Regions from separate parts of the Homo sapiens genome. Here all the other regions are reported to be linked to region 4. Evidence: microRNA targets listed by miRTarBase, many of them from high-throughput screens and not tested one by one. Region 4 holds a microRNA gene; each other region holds the end of a gene's coding sequence.
Evidence for each region. The annotated mature microRNA hsa-miR-1827 reads UGAGGCAGUAGAUUGAAU and lies in region 4 at 1,000-1,017, opposite strand. An mRNA with a match to its seed (bases 2 to 7 or 8) in the 3' UTR can be bound and repressed. Matches are read on the target gene's strand: a 7mer-m8 pairs with bases 2 to 8, a 7mer-A1 pairs with bases 2 to 7 and ends in A, and an 8mer does both.

Region 1 (3,132 bases), not on the chromosome of region 4:
CCAAGTTTTCCAAAGAATTAAGTGAATACCCAGAAGACAAGTTCAGATATGCCAAGGCATCTCAAGACAAAGGCTGAATACTGATCTTGGGTGTTGGTGTCTCTTTGGTAACTACGGTGAAGTTGTATAAGCTTAAACGCTATGTGTTGGAAATTCCTTGAGAATGAATCAGTGATGAATCCCTTGCCTTTGGTGAAATTGGGCTGAAATACTTCAAAGTCAAATTTGGAAATCTATGCTTGAAGACTTCAGTAATAGAAGTTTCAGCTAGTCAATGAAAAGAAAGAATAATCCCTAACTCATTTGCCGCCCCCCCCACCTCAAAAAAAAAAAAAAAAAAAAAAAGGAAGGAGGAAAGGGAGATATGTAGGTACCATGCAACAAATATGAAGGCTAGTATGTCTCAAGAGCAATCCAGATTTCCTAAGGGATTGGCCGTGTTAGTAGCAGATGGGTTCTGTTTCAGTTTATTCTCACTTAGCCATGTCTGGGAAAAGTTAAGTTGTACAACTTTGTGGACAATATGCTGTGGAAAATATATTTGTTGCCATTTAAGATAAAGATATGAGCAACCATAAAGCGATCTTTATAGACAGTAATGATACTTGTGATATTAGCTTCTAAAATTATATGCAGAATTAGATTACTTTAGATAAGGTGACACGTATCCAAGCTCCAAAAGTTACTTTTGCATGGTTGAAGGCATAGTGCAGAAGGAGTAAATTTGTATGCTTGGTATGCACATGTGCATGTGTGTGTGGTGGTGGGGAGTGGAGAGGTGGAATGTAAAGAGAAGTACTATTGGCCAAACAGGAGCTGGAAAAAAAAAAAAGTCAAGTTATTCTGGGTATGTATCAGAGAAAACTGCAACTCCCACTATGACAGAAATAATTGTAGACTGAGGGAGAAAGTATTATGGCCTGCTAACATTAGGAAGCATGAGTCTACCACTATTCCCCATTTGCTTTCTGTCTCACGATAAGTTTCCATGAAAAAATTCTTCTTTTAATATTTTTTACATATAAAGAAACCAGAGTTGAAACCCAAGTATAAAAGGCTTGTTAGATCCAACTGAATAGAAAATAAGCTCTCCCAAATTTTAATTAAAATTACTTTCCCTTTCTTTGAAAAAGAAAAAAACTCTTGCATGACCAAACTTAAAAGTCCTGATTTGAAAGTTTCATAAACCTTATCTTTTCTCCATAATGAAACATCTAGATTCTGTGCTGTCCTGTCAGAGGCAGACTTTTATTTTCGTTTGGGTAATTTTTATCCTTGGAGACATCGCCCCCTGCTGTAACACATGCTTAGTTGCAGAAGCATTTTTCACTCAAAAAAGGATATGAATAAAAAGATACAATGATTATTAAAGTGAAAGAAACTTTATTTTGAGTAATATACATATCATTCATTCCATTTAATTTTCATAGTGCATAGCTATGTGTAGAAGTACACAGGGAAGAATAAACATTAGAAATACCTAGCCATGAAAATATACAAGTGAAGACATTTGATATATCCATGGACAGGCTTGGAAGTATTATAAAACAGGATCCATTAGGAAAGAATAAAAACCATGCAAAAAAAATCTTATCTAAATCATGGCAGGCAAGTGCAATCAATATAAATCATAGTCTCTGGGTACAAAAACTATACATGTTCTTTGGATTAAAAGCAAATGGGTGGCTTGGCTTTTATGTCCAAGCCAAAAATCATCTATACAAGTAAAAAGTGTGTGGGTCAGGCATGGTGGCTCCCACACCTGTAATCCCAGCACTTTGGGAGGCCAAGGCAGGCGGATCATCTGAGGTCAGGAGTTTGAGACCAGCCTGGCTAACATGGTGAAAACCTGTCTCTACTAAAAATACAAAAATTAGCTGGGTGTGGTGGCATGCACCTGTAATCCCAGCTATTTGGGAGGCTGAGGCAGGAGAATTGCTCAAAATAAAAAAAAAAAAATAAAGAACTAAAAAGTGTGGATACTGTTATGCCACATGTGATAATAAAATATTCAAGGCCACAGATGCAAGTCACCAACTTACAAAGAGAATACTGAAGGTAGGGTACATTAAAAAAATAGAGAAATGCAATAAAGAAAATGCCACCTCTGCCTAAATCAGGAAAGAGTAAATGCATAGGCATTAAAACAGCAGCTCTGCATACTACACTGCATTTCTCTTTGTCAAAAAGAATTCACTGTGTATCATTACAAAGGTCAGTGAATAAGACGAGGCAATAAACGTAGCGCCTTGGTATTAGGGCAAATTTAGTTTTCTTTTCATTTTACACATGAGGGGGAAAAAAGAAGTGTAGAACTAGGAATGCTCATCTTTCCATTCAGTACACTAACTTTTAAGTGTGTGGCACAAATGGAATAGAGACATGAAGTTTAATGAGATCCAAGCTTCCAAAAATGATTTCACATTTGAAAAGCTATGGAAAGATACAATTATTTACTGTTTTACAAATCAAATGCTTAAACCAAGTTTAAAAGTTGAGACCGAAAAAAAATTGATGAAGAAAAAATGGCCAAAAAAATTAAACAAAATCTCTTGGTTTCCTTTACAGTTTCTTTTTTTGCGTTTTATTTTTTTCAAATTGCATTTTACAGTAGAAATGCAGACCACTTTGGATAGCTATGGCTCGATACTTCTGGGTGCCCTCCTCCTAAGACATCCTCTTCTTACATTCCACTGAACAGAAAACCATCCCTTCTACTGGCATGAACTTCTGCCCAATGAGGCATTTGCTGCAGCAAGAGCACAGAAAGCACTCTGTGGATGCATGCCAGCTGAAATTGTTATAGGTCACCCGCTGCACTTCTGGGTCGATGGCATTGTGGCATCCTTGACACACCTATTAAGAAATAATACAAGAGAAGAGGGTGAGAGATCAAGCTGTAATGGTAACATTTTCATCTTAGGACATATTTCTTTAGATGATAAATTAAAACTCATAATGACAACCTCAGAAATACACAATGGAGGGTGGCCTTCTAGCTAACCTTTTTGGCCAACTGTTAATGGAGGTCAATATTCTGAGCAGCCTGAGAAATAACGAGTGAAGGCCAAACAGGTGATTTGATGCATGTAAGATAACTTCATGGCATTCAAGGCAGAAAGTCTTGATGGG
Region 2 (3,128 bases), not on the chromosome of region 4:
GCAGGGGAACAGGGTGACCCCAGGACCTGGAGGGCCTTGGCATGAGGAGTTTGGATTCGATCCCGAGAACCTGGAGCTTGTACGGATTGTTGGGGGGCAGCAGGGGTTACTCTGGGAGAGGGCATGGAGAGTCGGAACAGCACCCCAATGCCATCTGCCCCCAGGCCGAGAGGTGAGCCCAGCGCATCAGTATGCTCTGGCTGGAGGCATCTCCTTCCCCTTCTTCTGGCTGGCTGGTGCGGGCTCGGCCGTCTTCTGGGTGCTGGGTGAGTACAGGGTCTGAGCAGCTGGGGTGGATGGTGGGAGCCAGGTGCAGGAGTGTGGCCCTGAGCTGCCGGCTTTCCTGCAGGAGCCACCCTGGTGGTCATCGGCTCCCACGCTGCCTTCCACCAGATTGAGGCTGTGGACGGGGAGGAGCTGCAGATGGAACCCGTGTGAGGTGTCTTCTGGGACCTGCCGGCCTCCCGGGCCAGCTGCCCCACCCCTGCCCATGCCTGTCCTGCACGGCTCTGCTGCTCGGGCCCACAGCGCCGTCCCATCACAAGCCCGGGGAGGGATCCCGCCTTTGAAAATAAAGCTGTTATGGGTGTCATTCAGGAAATATTCCCCCAGCATCTTCTGTGGGTCTCTATGGGTGGAGCTGGGAATACTGCACAGAGCAGGGTTGGGGTGGAACCTGGGGTGTGGGCAAGACGATGACAAGGTAAACAGGTAAAATATTATGGGATGCCCAATGGTGGTGAGTGTTCAGGAGGAGAAAAGAGTTGAGAAGGACAGTGTGCCGGGGGTCCCCGAGACCACCCCCAGGTTTGATGGTTCTTTAGGACTCAGGAATCAGAGAGCACCCCAGGTTTGATGGTTCTCTGGGACTGGGGACTCAGTATGCAATTGCACTCACAGCTCTGATTTACTCTCATCAAAGGGTATGGAGCCAAGTCAGCCAAAAGGAAAGGTGCATGGAGTGAACTCGGGAAACCAGGCATGCACTTCCAGAGGCCACACCTAATTCCTCCAGCAGTGGATCATGGTGACGTGTGAAATGTCAGCCAGGGACACTCTGATCCTAGCCTCAGCGCCCTTGGTTTCATGGGGGCGGCCACAAGAGCACCTTCTCTCCAACATATACCAAAATGCCAGGCTCCCAGAAAGAAGGCCTGTGCCTGCACGAACAGCCTAGATAGATGCAGCAAGCCACTCTAGGCCTGCACGAACAGCCTAGATAGATGCAGCGAGCCACTCTATCAGGAAGTGATAAGACCCCCCCCCCAACACCCAAGTTCCCAGCCAAGGACCAACTGTGCACCCAGGCCTGTCTAAGGACAGCAGTCTGTTGTGGAGCCTGCCAGGTTAACTCTTTTCTGCACAGAGAAAGTTCGGGAATGAGTTGTGGGTTAAAGAGGGTGACCAGAAAAGGCCTCCCTGACGTGACATTCACCAAAGACCTAAATTGAGAGAGGGAGCAGCCCAGATCCTTTGGAGGAAGAATAATTGGGGCAGAGGAAGCCACAGGGGCATAGCCTGGGAGATGGCAGCAGCCAGGAGGCTCGAGGGCAGCCAGGAGGTGGGCGTGGCTGGGGCAGATAAGCGAGGGGGACAGTGTGGGAGGCCAGGGAGCCTTGTGGGCCACGGTGAGGGCTTTGGGTTTTACTCTGCTTGAGATGAAAGACACAGTTTGCTTTTGTGAGATGGATTTTGCTTTGTTTCCCAGGCTGGTCTCAAATTCCTGGGCTCAAGCGATTCTCCCCCTGCAGCCTCCCATAGTGCTGGGACTACTGGTGTGAGCCACTGTGTCCAGCCCAGTTTGCTTCTTGCCTTTTGTTTTTTTGAGACAGGGTCTCACTTTATGGCCCAGGCTGGAGTGCAGTGGTGTGACCACTGCTCACTGCAGCATCTACCTCTTGGGCTCAAGTGAGCCTCCCACCTCAGCCTCCTGAGCAGCTGGGACCACAGGTGCACGCCACCACACCCAGCTAATTTTTTTTAACTTTTCATTAGACAGGGTCTCACTATGTTGCCTGGCCTGGTTTCAAACTCCTGGGCTGAAGCAATCCTCCTGCCTCAGCCTCTCAAAGTTCTGGGATTACAGGCATGAGCCACCGTGCCGGGTCCAGTTTGCCTTTCATCATGAGGTGGAGACTGCCACGTGGTAGCAGTAACAAAAGAGAAACACACTTGGGAGGGAAAGTGCCAGGCAGATGAAGACAAGGGAGGTGGCCGAGAGGGCCTAAGAAGTGACTTGATTTTTTTATTTTTATTTATTTGTTTATTTTTTTGAGATGGAGTCTCTCTCTGTCGCCCACGCTGGAGAGCAATGGTGTGATTTCGGCTCACTGTAACCTCCACTTCCAAGATTCAAGCTATTCTCCTGCCTCAGCCTCCCAGGTAGCTGGGATTATAGGTGCCCACCAACACGCCTGACTAATTTTTGTATTTTTAGTTTTATTTTTTAATTTTTTTGAGATGGAGTTTCGCTCTTGTTGCCCATGCTGGAGTGCAATGGCGCGATCTCGACTCACTGCAACCTCCACCTCCCGGTTTCAAGTGATTCTCCTGCCTCAGCCTCCCGAGTAGCTGGGATTACAGGCGCCTGCCACCACGCCCGGCTGATTTTTTTGTATTTTTGGTAGAGACAGGGTTTCACTGTGTTGCCCAGGCTGGTCTCGAACTCCTGACCTCAGGTGATCCACCTGTCTTGGCCTCCCAAAGTGCTAGGATTACATGTGTGAGCCACCGTGCCCCGCCAATTACTTTAGATAGGGGTGGTCTGGGAGGGCTCTCTGAGGAGACACAAGAAGTGGGTGGAGTTTCCCAAGGAGAGGGACAGCGAGTGCCAAGGCCTCAGGGATGCAGCCTCTCCAACCTCGTGTCTCCTCAGCAGAACTCACCCACTCATCCTTGATGCAGCAGGTGCTCACCCAGAGCCCACTGATGCCCACTGTTCTGGAATTCTCCTGTCAGATATGGTGGCCAGCCATATGCGGCTGCCTCAAACATGGCTGGTCCAAACTGAGACATGCTATGAGTGTGAAATGCACACCAGACTTCGAAGATTTAGTATGAAAATGGAGTAAAATATCTCAATAATTTTTATAGGCTGGGCATGGTGGCTCACACCTGTAATCCCAGCA
Region 3 (3,132 bases), not on the chromosome of region 4:
GGGTTTCACTACATTGGCCAGGCTGGTCTCGAACTCCTGGCCTTAAGTGATCCACCCGTCTCAGCCTCTCAAAGTGCTGGGATTACAGGCGTGAGCCACCGCGCTTGGCTGTTCTCTTTCATAACTTTGACTTATAGACTGTCAGTGATCCCACCAAGTTCAGTCATTTCTGATATAACAGAGCATGCCCAGTAACCTAATTTAAGGGCCACAGCACATATTCAGGCTTTGTTGAGATAGTAAGGAGGTTCTTAGCAGGTACTTGTATAACTATTTAAAATGTAACCATTTTATTTTTATTTTTTTTTAGATGGAATTCCCTCTGTCGCCCAGGCTGGAGTGCAGTGGTGCAATCTTGGTTCACTGCAACCTCTGCCTCCTTGGTTCAAGTGATTCTCCTGCCTCAGTCTCCCAAGTAGCTGGGATTACAGGCACACGCCACCACGCCAGGCTAATTTTTGTATTTTTAGTAGAGACAGGGTTTCACCATGTTGGCCAGGCTGGTCTCAAACTCCTGGCCTCAAGTGATCCGCCCCCCTCAGCCTCCCAAAGTGCTGGGATTACAGGTTTGAGCTACCTGCCCTGTCTTAAAATATAACCATTTTAAAATGTAATAGCTACTCTAGCTTGAGGCAGTAAACAGCAGGGCCAACTTTGTTACCTCCTGATGTGATGTTTCTCACGGACTAAACTATACACAAGCAAGTGCACTATGCTGGAATTGCCTTTAATCTATCAATCGGATTGGAATAAACTTTACATTCTACAACGAGCATACAACAGAACTGACTAGATACATCCATGTGGTGCAGCAACATGGCTGTGTCCTCCAGCAGAGCACACAAAGCTTTTCTTAAAAATGGGCTGTAATGAGCTTTACATCCTACTGCATAGCATCCTCTATGCTTGTAATTCTGCTATACCCTGTGTCTGGCCAGCTCTTAGATTCAGATATTCCCTGACTGCACTTACTAAATGACATTAAAGAAAAATTTATAATGTTTGCTTTTTAAAACATTTAAATACATTCAAGTAATCATTTAGTTGATTTCACAGTTGGGTGGCAACTCAAGCTAAAAATTCTCACTAAATAACATTCTAGCAAGCCTTGGCATAACTAAAGAAACACTGAGCACACAGGGTTGAAGTTAAAATTTTATTTATGGCTGGAGTGGCATAAAAGATTTGTTTTCCATGCTTCAAAAAGAAAAAAAAAGTTTTCAGGGCTTCTCTCCCTCCCTATGCATCCTACCCTTCTGTTTCCTGTTCTTAACTTTATCTGTACCTATGGGAGTCATCAATGGGGAGTGTCACAGGGCTTGGCAAGAAATGTCACATTGAAGATAAGTGGCCTCAAACTGAAACCAAGCAGGGCTGTTTGTTTCCAAAGAGAACCCTCCACTGTAGGGCCGCTCATGCACCGCCACAGAAGCCTCTGCCGGGTCACAGTCAGAGAAGCTCCCCGGGCACCGGCAGCACACTCAGCACAGCCGTTTCATGTGGGTGAACCTGAGAAGGTTTAAAGTGTTGCAGGCCCTTTTCAAGTTTTGCCTCCCTCACTCTCTGCAAACTCCCTTAATGTGGGCCATGGAAGAGAATTTTAAGAGACAATAACAGAAAGACTGGATATTACCCCAGAGAATAAAGACTTGCAAAGCCTGGAACTTATAATGTTTGAAACCTGGTCTCTCGAACTTGAGCTATCCCGGTTGTCAGTCCCACAGTGGCCGTGCACAATGTTGGCCTGGACTGAAAAGGGCCTCTGGCTCCTCCGATTTCAGTTCTTAGCAATATCAGACCTGTGTTTCTTTGGAACAGAAGTTACTAAAACAACCTAATTCCAAAGAAGCCCTTTTGATCCAGCTGTTCTCCCTAAAAACATTTTCGCTAGCGGATTCATTCTTTACTATTTAACAGTGGACCTTTAAAACGTACCTTTAAAATGCTTTCTATAGTAACATGTTTCCACATACAAATTATAAAATGTGTTTATTTTGCTGGGCGCAGTGGCTCATGCCTGTAATCCTAGCACTTTGGGAGGCCAAGGCGGGTGGATCACCTGAGGTCAAGAGTTCGAGACCATCCTGGCCAACATGGTGAAACTCCAACTCTACTAAAAATAAAAAAATTAGCTGGGCATGGTGGTGGACGCCTGTAATCCCAGCTACTCGGGAGGCTGAGGCAGGAGAATCACTTGAGCCCAGGCGGTGGTGGCTGCAGTGAGCTTGAGATCGTACCACTGCACTCTGTCCTGGGTGACAGAGTGAGACTCTGACTCAAAAAAAAAAAGTGTCTATTTCGTATTTTCTCTTTGGCAGCTACTGTTGCTTGGACAGTCTTTACTCTTCCCCTTTTATTACGAAAAATACCACCTTGACAAAAGAGAGCCTGTCAGATGGGAACGGGAACACCAGGTCCATCCCTTCCCACGGATTCTGGTCCCTGAGGTAGCTATCCATCAGTCCTTGCAAAGTCCACCTGAAATGTGTCCGCGTCACCCTCCTGCATAGTTCAACACACAGGGGAGCCCTCTCACCCAGCCTTGAGGGCCACATGCCCATGTGGCTCTCTTGGTGTATGTGACGGTTTCGCAATCAGAGATCCACGTGGAGTTCTCCATACATTCCTCTTCGTTTGGGCACTGTGGTTACAGAAGGCTAGTTTTCAAGTTGCAGGTTTTACTGTAAAGATTTCAAGACCCTCCAGCATCATCTGTTTAAATAAAAGAATGAAATGCCCAAGGGTTAAAGTCCAGCTAAAAGAAGTTATTTGCAATAGATTTCTATTTCAGAAACTGCTTTACAATTGTTCTTATGTACGGAAGACTTTGAAAACCCCTCCACAATGGAAACAGTAGCCACTGTCTGGAAATGACCTTGTGTAATTATCAGTACTATCAGGGGATCAAGCAAATGATGACATTACATTTGCAACGATCTGTGGGAATCTCAATCCATGAACATGGATGCTCTTTTATTTCTTAGTGGACTGAGGATGGGGCAATTTCAACAAACATACAGTGAGAGCCTGTTGGAGGTATGGAGAAGAATAAGCCTGTCGATTCCTCTGGGATCCCCAGGCTTGGCTTCTCTCACCCACATGCAGGACAGGCCAGGGCTTTCTGTACAACAG
Region 4 (3,132 bases):
GCCAGTAGGTGAAGTGTGTCTCCACTCCCTTGGGTGGAGTGGACAGGGTGCCTTTCTCAAGGGCAGTTGTGAGGGCTGAGCTGGCCGGGAAGGTGTGCTCTTCCTTCCAGGCCTCCCTCCCACAGGTCTTCTGCGGGCCCTGCAGTTGGCCCTGCTCTGACTCTTAGTTTTTGCTTCATTCTTGACCCACTCAGGCCTGGTAGAAAGAGTTATCTGTGAGCACGGCGGGGGTTCCCAAGAATCTATTATGGTTTTAGTGTCTAGGACTCTAAAGTCGTGACAGTGACTCGTCTCTTCAGCCCCTGTTTGCAGCAGAGGGCGCAAACCAGCTCAAAGCAGGCACACAGATGTTTGGTGAATTGGGAGAAGTTGTTCCTGTCCAGGAGCCATAACGTGGTATTTGTAATTTTCCTCGTTGGAAGGCATGGCTCTGTCTGCCAAGAAAGACAAGGCATGTAGTCACCATGCTGCTGCCTCACAGTGACATTTTTAAAGCCAGACCTTCTAGAGAAGGAAGCAGGAAGGAAGGCGACTTGCTTTTGGGCCCGTGGAGTTTCAGCAGTTGCGGGAAGTTGGCTGGGCTGTGTGTGTGTGTTGCTGCATTGGTGCCTGGTCTTCTTTGATAGCTCCCAGGAGCATGAGGTTGTGCTTAGCAGTTGTGTCCCATCAGTCCTCTTGGTCTCGATCAGTTCACACGCTCCCAGGGCCCCACGTATCAGAAGGGCCGCCGTTGCATAACACTGTCCATGGAAATCACTGCAGTCATGAGAGGAGCAGTGGCTTTGGCCTGTAGACTCAGAGACCTTTCACCATGACTCAGCATGGGAAGCGGAGGCTCAGAGAACTTCAGCCTGTCTTGTCCAGGGCCACCAAGGGAGCAACTGAGCCATGTCTTCTGTTATATTTAGAGTTGGGGGCTGAGGAGGGGCGCCTATCTGCATTCTCTGCCGGTCCTGGGTCCACCTGTTGCAGGGACCCAATTCTAAGGGACCTGAATCAATTCAATCTACTGCCTCAGCCTTTCAGAGGCTTCTCATTGCTTTAGGCTGAAGGCTGTGCTGCTGAACATGGCCTTCAGGGTCCCATGGGGTCTGACTCCTGTCATTTCCTCTGTTGCAGGCCCACTTGACTTCTTGCAGTTCTTCAGATGTATTGTCTTCCCGACAGGCCCTGCCTCAGGCTGTCCCTTTGCAGGGCGGGCTGTCTCTTCTCTGGTTACTTCTGTTCGTTCTTCAGAGAAGCCTTCCCTGTTCCTCCCATTCCTCACTGCCGTGCTTCTCCTTCACAGCCCTTACCACTGCCTGTAGTTACTGTATTTCTTTGTGTACTCATCTGTGGTCTAGCTCCCTTGCAAGGCTGGGAGCTCCATGGGGCAGGGACCCTGTCTGTCTTGTCTCTGGTTTACCCCAGTGCCTCACACGGCCTGGTACATAGTGGGTGTCCAGCATCGACTTGAGGAAGAGTGATGAGGGAAGGCTCCAGACCCTTTCAGGGGCAGAGTTGCTCTACTGCTCCTGCTCCTGCTGCTTGGGGCTCATCATCCTCTGCCCTGCACACCCGTGGCAGGGGGGGTCTGCCCACACCCACCTGCCTTTGTGCCACACTCCCTTCCCTAGCAGGACGATGGTTCCTCTCAGCACTGTCCTTTTTGTTTGGCCTCCTGGTGGGAGGTGAAGCCAGCTGGACTTCCTGGGTCGAGTGGGGACTTGGAGAACTTTTCTGTCTAGCTAGAGGATTGTAAACACACCAGTCAGCGCTGTGTCTAGCTAAAGGATTGTAAATGCACCAATCAGCACTCTGTAAAAACGCACCAATCAGTGCTCTGTGTCCAGCTAAAGGATTGTAAACACACCAATCAGTACTCTGTAAAATGGATCAATCAGCACTCTGTAAAATGGACCAATCAGCGCTCTGTAAAATGGACCAATGAGCAGGATGTGGGCAGGGACAAATGAGGGAATAAAAGCTGGCCACCCCACCCAGCAGCGGCAACCTGCTCGGGTCCCCTTCCATGCTGTGGAACCTTTGTTCTTTCGCTCTTCATCATAAATCTTACTGCTGCTCACTCTTTGGGTCCGTGCCACCTTTAAGAGCTGCAACACTCACCGCAAAGGTCTGCAGCTTCATTCTTGAAGTTGGCGAGACTAAGAACCCACCAGAAGGAACCAATTCTGGACACTGGGAAGGATGTTACCTTCGGACACAGTGTTGTTCACTTTTTTGACTGGGAACCGACAGCAGATAATACACCTTTGTATGTAAATGTATACTGTCAGTATGTACATAAAACTGAAAGAAAAATGTCACTGCTACATATAGTAAAGCTAAGTACTATTTTCTCTTTTAATACTAAAAAAAATGCTTGTCCCCTCAAAATTGACTTCTTATCTTCTTAATTTGATATCCTGGCCCACAGTGGGTCACCACTCAAGTTTAGAGAAGCCCATTCTGCAGGACTGCCTGGCTGTGCAGCTGGTGCTCCCTCCCTCCCTGCTGCATTTTCCTCTCCCCCTCACTGTGGGATGGGGCTGAGGTTGTTCCCTTGGGTAAGAGGCTGTCCCTCCCTGCCTTCAGCAGTTTGAAGGGTTCTCAGGAAGACAGGCAGGCAAGGCCTGTGAGTCCTCTGCCACAGGTGCCGTAGGGTGCAGTTCAAGGCTGAACCCAGCATGTCACAGCCTCCCTGGGTGCACCAGGAAGAAATGGCTTATTCTTTGCGGTGTGGGTTTTGGGAGAGGCTAGTGATGGTTTTGCTCTGAAGACGAGTTTTGACTTAAAGGGCTTGAGCGATGGAGAGGGACTGGCCAAAGGGAAATGTAAGTTCAAGGACACCCATGCAGAGGCAAGGAAGTCAGAACAGGGTGTGTCTCACAAGTGGCATGGGTTCTCATGCCAGGTGCATAGGGTGCTTAAGGGGGTGAGGATAGAAGAGGAGCTGAGGAGGCCAGGGAGCCCAGGGTGAAGGGGTGGGGGTGTCTGCCCTTTGGGCAGTAGGGAACCAGTGGAGCTGTACCTGTCTGAAAGTTCTACAACAAGAGTATTGTTTCTTAGATGTTTGGTTTATTTGAGGCTGTGCACGTTTTATTAGGTGTTTGCTCTAATGTGTTAGAATTGGAAGGATGATGTACTCATCTG

Region 1: the mRNA of TES is a reported target of hsa-miR-1827. Seed matches in the 3' UTR shown: 8mer at 1,923-1,930.
Region 2: miRTarBase lists RABAC1 as a target of hsa-miR-1827. The part of its 3' UTR that is shown has no 7-base or 8-base seed match.
Region 3: miRTarBase lists FAM118A as a target of hsa-miR-1827. Seed matches in the 3' UTR shown: 8mer at 2,178-2,185.

Annotation. Positions count from the first base shown.
Region 1 is chr7:116,257,018-116,260,149 of GRCh38, reverse strand. It overlaps TES (testin LIM domain protein), which reads right to left. Exons shown (of 7, transcript NM_015641.4): 7 at 1,367-2,856. The coding sequence ends at 2,668. It overlaps LOC124901730 (a long non-coding RNA gene), which reads left to right and starts at 2,846. Exons shown (of 4, transcript XR_007060485.1): 1 at 2,846-3,132.
Region 2 is chr19:41,954,156-41,957,283 of GRCh38, reverse strand. It overlaps RABAC1 (Rab acceptor 1), which reads left to right. Exons shown (of 5, transcript NM_006423.3): 4 at 165-266; 5 at 350-601. The coding sequence ends at 438. Among named protein-coding and RNA genes, the nearest start is that of RABAC1, 3.6 kb to the left of the region's middle.
Region 3 is chr22:45,339,966-45,343,097 of GRCh38, reverse strand. It overlaps FAM118A (family with sequence similarity 118 member A), which reads right to left. Exons shown (of 9, transcript NM_017911.4): 9 at 1,143-2,712. The coding sequence ends at 2,693. Among named protein-coding and RNA genes, the nearest start is that of FAM118A, 32 kb to the right of the region's middle.
Region 4 is chr12:100,187,817-100,190,948 of GRCh38, reverse strand. MIR1827 (microRNA 1827) reads right to left here and starts at 1,065; the gene lies at 1,000-1,065.